Linked DNA regions of Homo sapiens. The protein of the gene in region 2 interacts with the protein of the main gene of each other region in a pairwise test. Each region holds a gene or a part of one and is shown on either strand. Other genes may lie near its edges.

What was found. Proteins that work in one complex are often made in the same cells at the same time.
Region 1: the proteins of EGR2 (region 2) and RIMKLB interact in a two-hybrid assay, tested with the Homo sapiens proteins (one large-scale study listed by BioGRID and IntAct).

What each region holds. Positions count from the first base shown.
Region 1 is NC_000012.12:8,704,491-8,707,990, forward strand, and holds part of RIMKLB (beta-citrylglutamate synthase B), read left to right. Parts: intron 1-3,500. UniProt on the Homo sapiens protein: Catalyzes the synthesis of beta-citryl-L-glutamate and N-acetyl-L-aspartyl-L-glutamate. Beta-citryl-L-glutamate is synthesized more efficiently than N-acetyl-L-aspartyl-L-glutamate.
Region 2 is NC_000010.11:62,813,567-62,817,498, reverse strand, and holds the start of EGR2 (E3 SUMO-protein ligase EGR2), read left to right. Parts: upstream 1-1,132; 5' UTR 1,133-1,469; coding exon 1,470-1,638; intron 1,639-3,030; coding exon 3,031-3,932. UniProt on the Homo sapiens protein: Sequence-specific DNA-binding transcription factor.

The DNA.
Region 1 (3,500 bases), on a different chromosome or scaffold from region 2:
AAGAGAAATTGTCTTTGTAACAAATAGAATTGTTTAAACATAGACTTTAAGAATTCATCTTATAGCACTGGCAGACCCTAGTTTTTAAAAGTAAACCTTAATTATATGCTATGATAATGGCTTGGGTGCAAATGTTAGCACGTCTGTTAAGTGTTCCCTGACTCCTAAAGTCATTCTTCCGGAGGATGTGTTATTTAACTAATGCATTAACACTTGAGCCATGGCTCATGCCTGTAATCCCAGCTATCCGGGAGACTGAGGCAGGAGAATTTTGCTTGAGGCCAGGAGTTTGAGACCAGCCTGGGCAACATAGTGAGAACCTGCCTCTAAAAGAAGAGGAAAAAATTAGCTGGGTGTGGTGGTACATACCTGTCATCCCACCTACTTGGGAGGCTGAGGTGGGAGGATTATTTGAGCCCAAGATTGAAGGCTGCAGTTGCGTCACTGCAGGCTTGGTGCAGAGCAAGACCTCACCTCTAAAACACACACACACACACACACACACACACAAAACCCCAAACTAAAACCATTTGAGCTCAGACTTTACTAAATAGGTAAGTGTTTGGGGTATATATTCCAAGCAACAGGAAGCATGGACGAATATAATGTGTTTAGAAAATTGGAAGTGACAGAGGGCAGAAGATTTATTTGGAGGCTTTTATAGTAGTCCAAGTGTTGAATATACTGGAGATAAGAGTAAAGTGGGCCAGGCATGGTGGCTCATACCTGTAATCCTAGCACTTTGGGAGGCCAAGGCAGGAGGATCACTTGAAGTCAGGAGTTCGAGACCAGCCTGGCCAACATGGCGAAACTCCATCTCTACTAAAAATACAAAAATTAGCCGGGTGTGGTGGCACACGCCTGTAGTCCCAGCTACTCAGGAGGCTGAGGCAAGAGAATCGCTTGAACCCGGGAGGCAGAGGTTGCAGTGAGCCAAGATCACGTCACTGTACTCCAGCCTGGGTGACAGATTGAGACTCCATCTCAAAAAAAAAAAAAAAAAAGTAAAATGCCGGTGATATTAATATTTAGAAGTTAGAATTAGCTTTTTGTAAACAGTGAAAGAAGGATGGAAATAAAAATTGATGCCCAGTTGTCTGAATCGAGTGCCTTAATAAGGATAGGTATATCAGTCAGGGTTCTCCAGGGAAATAGACTCAATAAGATATGTTTATATATGTATTTTTAATTGTATACGTATTTTAAGCATTTAGCTTATGATTGCGGAGTTGCTAAGTTCAAAATCTGTAGAGTAAGCAGCAGTCTGTAAACTCAGACAGGACTTGATGTTGCAGTCTTGGGTCTGAAATTTTTGGGGAGACCAGCAGACTGGCAACTCAGGTAGCATTTCTGTGAGTCTGTCTATAAGTCCTGAGTCTTGAGGAAGAGTTCCTCCTCAGTTTTTACTTTTTAGCAAGACCTTCAACTGATTGGATGAAGCCCCTCCACATTATGGAGGGTAATTTCCTTTACTTAAGGTCAACTGATTAGATGTTAATCACGTATAGAAAATACCTTCAGCAATGTATAGACTATTGTTTGCCCAAATAGCTTGGAACCATTGCCTCACCAGGTTGATGTAAAATTTAATGATCACAATGGGGAATATAGGTGCTGAAACATTTCTGTGAATAAAAATACATTCTTTGTTTTGTTTTTTGTTTTTGAGGCGGAGTTTTGCCCTTGTCACCCAGGCTGGAGTGCAATGGTGCGATCTCAGCTCACTGCAACCTCCGCCTTCTGGGTTCAAGTGACTCCTCTTCCTCAGGCTCCCAAGTAGCTGGGATTACAGGTGCCCACCACCATGCCTAGCTAATTTTTGTATTTTTAGTAGAGATGGGGTTTCACCAGGTTGGCCAGGCTGGTCTTGAACTCCTGACCTCAGGTGAGGTGATCCACCTGCCTCGGCCTCCCAAAGTGCTGGAATTACAGGTGTGAGCCACCACGCCTGGACTTTTTTTTTTTTTTTTTTTTCCTGAGACTGAGTTTCGCTCTTGTCACCCAGGCTGGAGTGCAATGGCACAATCTTGGTTCACTGCAACCTCTGCCTCCTGGGTTCAAGCGATTCTCCTGGCTCAGCCTCCTGAGTAGCTGGGACCATAGGTGTGCACCCCTGCGTCCGGCTAATTTTTTTGTATTTTTAATAGAGACAGGGTTTCACCATTTTGGCCAGGCTAGTCTCAAACTCCTGACCTCAGGTGATCCCGCCCACCTCAGCCCTCCAAAGTGCTGGGATTACCGGCATGAACCACCATGCCTGTCCTTTTTTTGTTTTAAAAAACATGCTTAACTGAGGCAACAGTGGGTGGCATTTAGTTAGGGATGCCCAGTAGGCTCATTGAAATGGATTCTGAAATTTAGTTGAGAAAGAAATATCTAGTGGGTCAGTGGTTCAGAAGGAATAAAGTTGAAACCTGGATTCGGATGACATTTCTAGAAAGTGGAAAGCAGAGTTTAAGAATGAAACTCGGGGGATCATATGCAGAAGGAGAGATGTCAGGAGGAAAGTCACAGAAAAAGAGGCTTGATAGCATACCTAAAATTTAATGAGAGAGCGTGGAAAAACAACATTCAATGTGCTTTTTCCTGTTCTTTCAGCAACACCAATCAACACAGAAGATCCACTGATGGAGATTTCTCCTCACCAACAGTCATTTCTGCAACGGACACCAGCTAGGTGTCCTCTAATTTCTGACACTGTCTCCCACAGGTTAAGTGCTCAGTTGCCAAAACGACCCCGTACCATGCCCCCCACCAGTACAGGCCTCTGGACTTCAGCCAGAAGGCTGACTGGCTTTAAGTTGGAGTTCCCACCAACCCTGTCTTTGGGTTTGATTAATTTGCTAGAGCAGTTTACATAACTCAGGGAAACATGTTTACGTGTATGTTATAAAGGATACAGATGAAAAGGTGCCTAGGGCAAAGTATGGAAAAGGGGCACGGAGCTTCTTTGCCCTTCCTGGGTGCGTCACCCTCCAGGATCTGCTACGTGTTCAGCTATCTGGAAGCATTTTGAGCCCAATCCTTTTGGGTTTTTTGGAGACTTCGTTACACAGGCATGATTGATTAAACCACTGGCCACTGGTGATCAACTTGACTGTTAGCCCGTCTCCCGTCTCCAGAGGTTAGGGGATGAGACGGAAGGTTCCAACCCTCTAATCATGCCTTGGTCTTTCTGGTGACCAGCCTCCATACTAAAGCTGCCTAGGGGCTGCCAGCCATCAGTCAATTATTAGCATACAGAAAGACATCATTTTGGAGATTCTTATGATTTTAGGAGTTGTATGCCAGGAAACAGGGTTGAAGACCAAGTATATATTTTGTAATATCACACTTTTAAGAGACACAAATTTGTTATTTTTCTCCACAAACCTGATTCAACTCCCGTGATTCCTATCCAAGAGGGGATAGTGTTGAAAACAAGTCTTTAGTATTATTATTTTTTATCCTATGTACAGTCTTTCCCGAAGCAAGCCTGTATTAACTGACAAATGGAATAA
Region 2 (3,932 bases):
GTTAGGCCAGTGTCTTCATAGAACCTCCTGTCCAGCGAGCCCGGAGCCCGCTCTGCCGCCGGGACACTGCTGGCAACGACGGCGCGCGGACGCAGTCAACAGGGAGGTGTGTAGTGTAAGGTGTGTGAGCGGGTGTGTGAAGAGGGCAGCGGGGGCGGGAGTGTGTAGCGGAAGTGGAGCGAGTGTGAGTGTGTGTGTATGTGTGTCTGGAGGGGCAGGGTGAGTGTCCAAGCTTCCATCTGGACGCCCCCACGCAGCCGACCGCCCAGACGCGCCGGGAAGGGCGCCCGCTCCGCGCAGCAGCTGAAGGGGGGCGGGGAGCGCGCGGGCAGAGGAAGGAGGGTGTCTCCGGCTGAGGATTTCTCTCGAAGCTCCCCACAGTAATTCTGCTCCTCCTAGGGTTTACCCTCCCAGTCCCAAGGTGCCCAAAATACTTAAACAAACAAACAACCCAAACCTGTTCCGTTTTCGCTCCTGTATAAATAGAACAGACTTTCCAAAAAAGCAATACGCATTCACTCTTATCACCAGCCACTTCTTTCCACCAAGTAATTCAGAAAAAAGCAGTCAGCTTCCGTGAATGCATGTAGCTTTTTTTTTCTTCGCTGCCTCCTTTTGCTTGCGGTTTTGAGCTGCCAAGAAAGTGAGTAGGGGTTTGACTGTAGTGTCTCGGCTCCGCTCGGTTTCTTTCCGAAGTTTAATTTTCCGGAATGGCTCCCAAACAAGGGCTAGGGAGGCGGAGCCGCCGGCACCGGATCTTCGCCTTTTTTGGAAAGTCCCAGAGAACCGGAATTCCTCCCCGCCCCGGGAGGCTGAGCCGCAGCCTGGAGCAGCTCGCTCTCCTGCTGTGGCTGTGACTGGGTCCATGGCGCGCCCTCTCCCCCGCGATCCCTGCGCCCCGGACCCAGGCTGCAGCTAGGGCCGCGCGCCCGGGACCCCAGCGATCCCCGCCGCCTGCGAGCTGGAAGTCGCGAGCCCGGCGGAGTCCGCGCGGCCGAGCCCGTGTATGCAAATCAGCCATGTGACGGCAAAAGCCGCCTGGCCCAGCCCTGTTCCTCAGTCCATATATGGGCAGCGACGTCACGGGTATTGAAGACCTGCCCATAAATACTTAGAGCAACACTTTCCGTCTAACTGAGCGAGGAGCAATTGATTAATAGCTCGGCGAGGGGACTCACTGACTGTTATAATAACACTACACCAGCAACTCCTGGCTTCCCAGCAGCCGGAACACAGACAGGAGAGAGTCAGTGGCAAATAGACATTTTTCTTATTTCTTAAAAAACAGCAACTTGTTTGCTACTTTTATTTCTGTTGATTTTTTTTTCTTGGTGTGTGTGGTGGTTGTTTTTAAGTGTGGAGGGCAAAAGGAGATACCATCCCAGGCTCAGTCCAACCCCTCTCCAAAACGGCTTTTCTGACACTCCAGGTAGCGAGGGAGTTGGGTCTCCAGGTTGTGCGAGGAGCAAATGATGACCGCCAAGGCCGTAGACAAAATCCCAGTAACTCTCAGTGGTTTTGTGCACCAGCTGTCTGACAACATCTACCCGGTGGAGGACCTCGCCGCCACGTCGGTGACCATCTTTCCCAATGCCGAACTGGGAGGCCCCTTTGACCAGATGAACGGAGTGGCCGGAGGTAAGCCGCGTGTCTTCGCAGGCCCGGACCTGCGCGGCCCGGAGGTGGTGGATGGGGTGCAGTGGGTGTGCGGGAATCGCAGGAGAGGATTGGGGCTCCAGGTGGACGGTGCTGACTGCACTGGCTTTGAAGACTGGAAGTGGGTGCAGGAGGAACCTGCGACAGCTGAGACCAGGGCGCGCGGGCAGATGCGCCAGGTCGCCAGCAAACCGGCGTGCGTGCGCCCCGGCGCGCCCAGCCCCGGGCGAGCGCAGGGATGGGGGTGGAAGAGGCGTCCCCCCGGGTTTCGAGGCTTGCGTAGGCCCTCTGGCCGGCAGCACTTCGACCTCCCCTCTCCCGGGGCAGGGGCAAAGTGACGGTAAAGTTCGGGGCTCTCGGGGAGAGCTGCGCGCCTGGAGAGCCGAGCGGCGGAGAAGCGCCAGGGGAAAGCGTCGGTAGCTCCCTCCTGGGCAGAGCCGACCCCGGGAAAATCTCGGAGCGCTCCCTTCTTGCGGCCTGGAGGCGCGCCCCCACCTGCCCGCCGCCCGCGAAGTTGAGGGGGTTAGTAAGGCGGGGGCTCCGGCCGGCGGAGGCAGCGAGTGGGTGGTGGAGGAGGGCGCGCAACGGCGGGAAGCAGCCCCCGGACTGCCGAGGGAGGCCCGCGGGGGCACCGGCGACGCCGGTTTCCTTGGCGATGCTGTGGAAAGTCGTCTCTCGCGGCCCCCGCGCCTTCCTCGAGGCCGGGCCACTGGCCTTGGGCTGAGGCGGGGACGCGCGGCTGTCGGGAAAGGCGGAGAAGATTGGGAGGGCACGGAAACCTACGGACTCCTTCCTCTACATCCCCCATTCGCTCCAGCAGCCCTCGGCTGAAGCGCAGCGGGAGAGGGAGGGAGAAAAAGGCACAAGGCGCCGGGGATGGGGAGCAGCCGGGAAATCACCCACCCCCTTCTCGGGCTCTCCTCTCGGTTTGGCACCATCACGGCACTGACTGGGATAGGTCGATTCTTGGGTGGTGTTTGTCTTGGTGCCTCAGCCGTGGAACCCCCAGGCAAAAAAGAGGGAGAAAAGCTCCGGGCGGATGAGGCTTTTTAAAATATTGTTGTTGCTATTATTGGGTGTTTTTTATTGGGGACTAGAGCCACAGATGGCTGGGGGTGGAGGGGAGTTGGGAAAAGCTCATTCTGCTTTTTTGGAGGTAGTTCTTGAGTTCCATACTGTCAATGGGTTGCCACAGTTGGGCTGGCCTCTTCTTACAGTCTGTGGGCCTCAATTTCCCCACCTTTTGGACTTTGCCACAGCTCTACAGTGCTGAGACTCTCGGCCTTGGAAATGGACCTATGTGAGCGGGGGTGAGAAGGGAGTCCTGGCTGTATTTTCATTGTTCCACCTCCATTCTGCCTTTCCCCTCCCCAGATGGCATGATCAACATTGACATGACTGGAGAGAAGAGGTCGTTGGATCTCCCATATCCCAGCAGCTTTGCTCCCGTCTCTGCACCTAGAAACCAGACCTTCACTTACATGGGCAAGTTCTCCATTGACCCTCAGTACCCTGGTGCCAGCTGCTACCCAGAAGGCATAATCAATATTGTGAGTGCAGGCATCTTGCAAGGGGTCACTTCCCCAGCTTCAACCACAGCCTCATCCAGCGTCACCTCTGCCTCCCCCAACCCACTGGCCACAGGACCCCTGGGTGTGTGCACCATGTCCCAGACCCAGCCTGACCTGGACCACCTGTACTCTCCGCCACCGCCTCCTCCTCCTTATTCTGGCTGTGCAGGAGACCTCTACCAGGACCCTTCTGCGTTCCTGTCAGCAGCCACCACCTCCACCTCTTCCTCTCTGGCCTACCCACCACCTCCTTCCTATCCATCCCCCAAGCCAGCCACGGACCCAGGTCTCTTCCCAATGATCCCAGACTATCCTGGATTCTTTCCATCTCAGTGCCAGAGAGACCTACATGGTACAGCTGGCCCAGACCGTAAGCCCTTTCCCTGCCCACTGGACACCCTGCGGGTGCCCCCTCCACTCACTCCACTCTCTACAATCCGTAACTTTACCCTGGGGGGCCCCAGTGCTGGGGTGACCGGACCAGGGGCCAGTGGAGGCAGCGAGGGACCCCGGCTGCCTGGTAGCAGCTCAGCAGCAGCAGCAGCCGCCGCCGCCGCCGCCTATAACCCACACCACCTGCCACTGCGGCCCATTCTGAGGCCTCGCAAGTACCCCAACAGACCCAGCAAGACGCCGGTGCACGAGAGGCCCTACCCGTGCCCAGCAGAAGGCTGCGACCGGCGGTTCTCCCGCTCTGACGAGCTG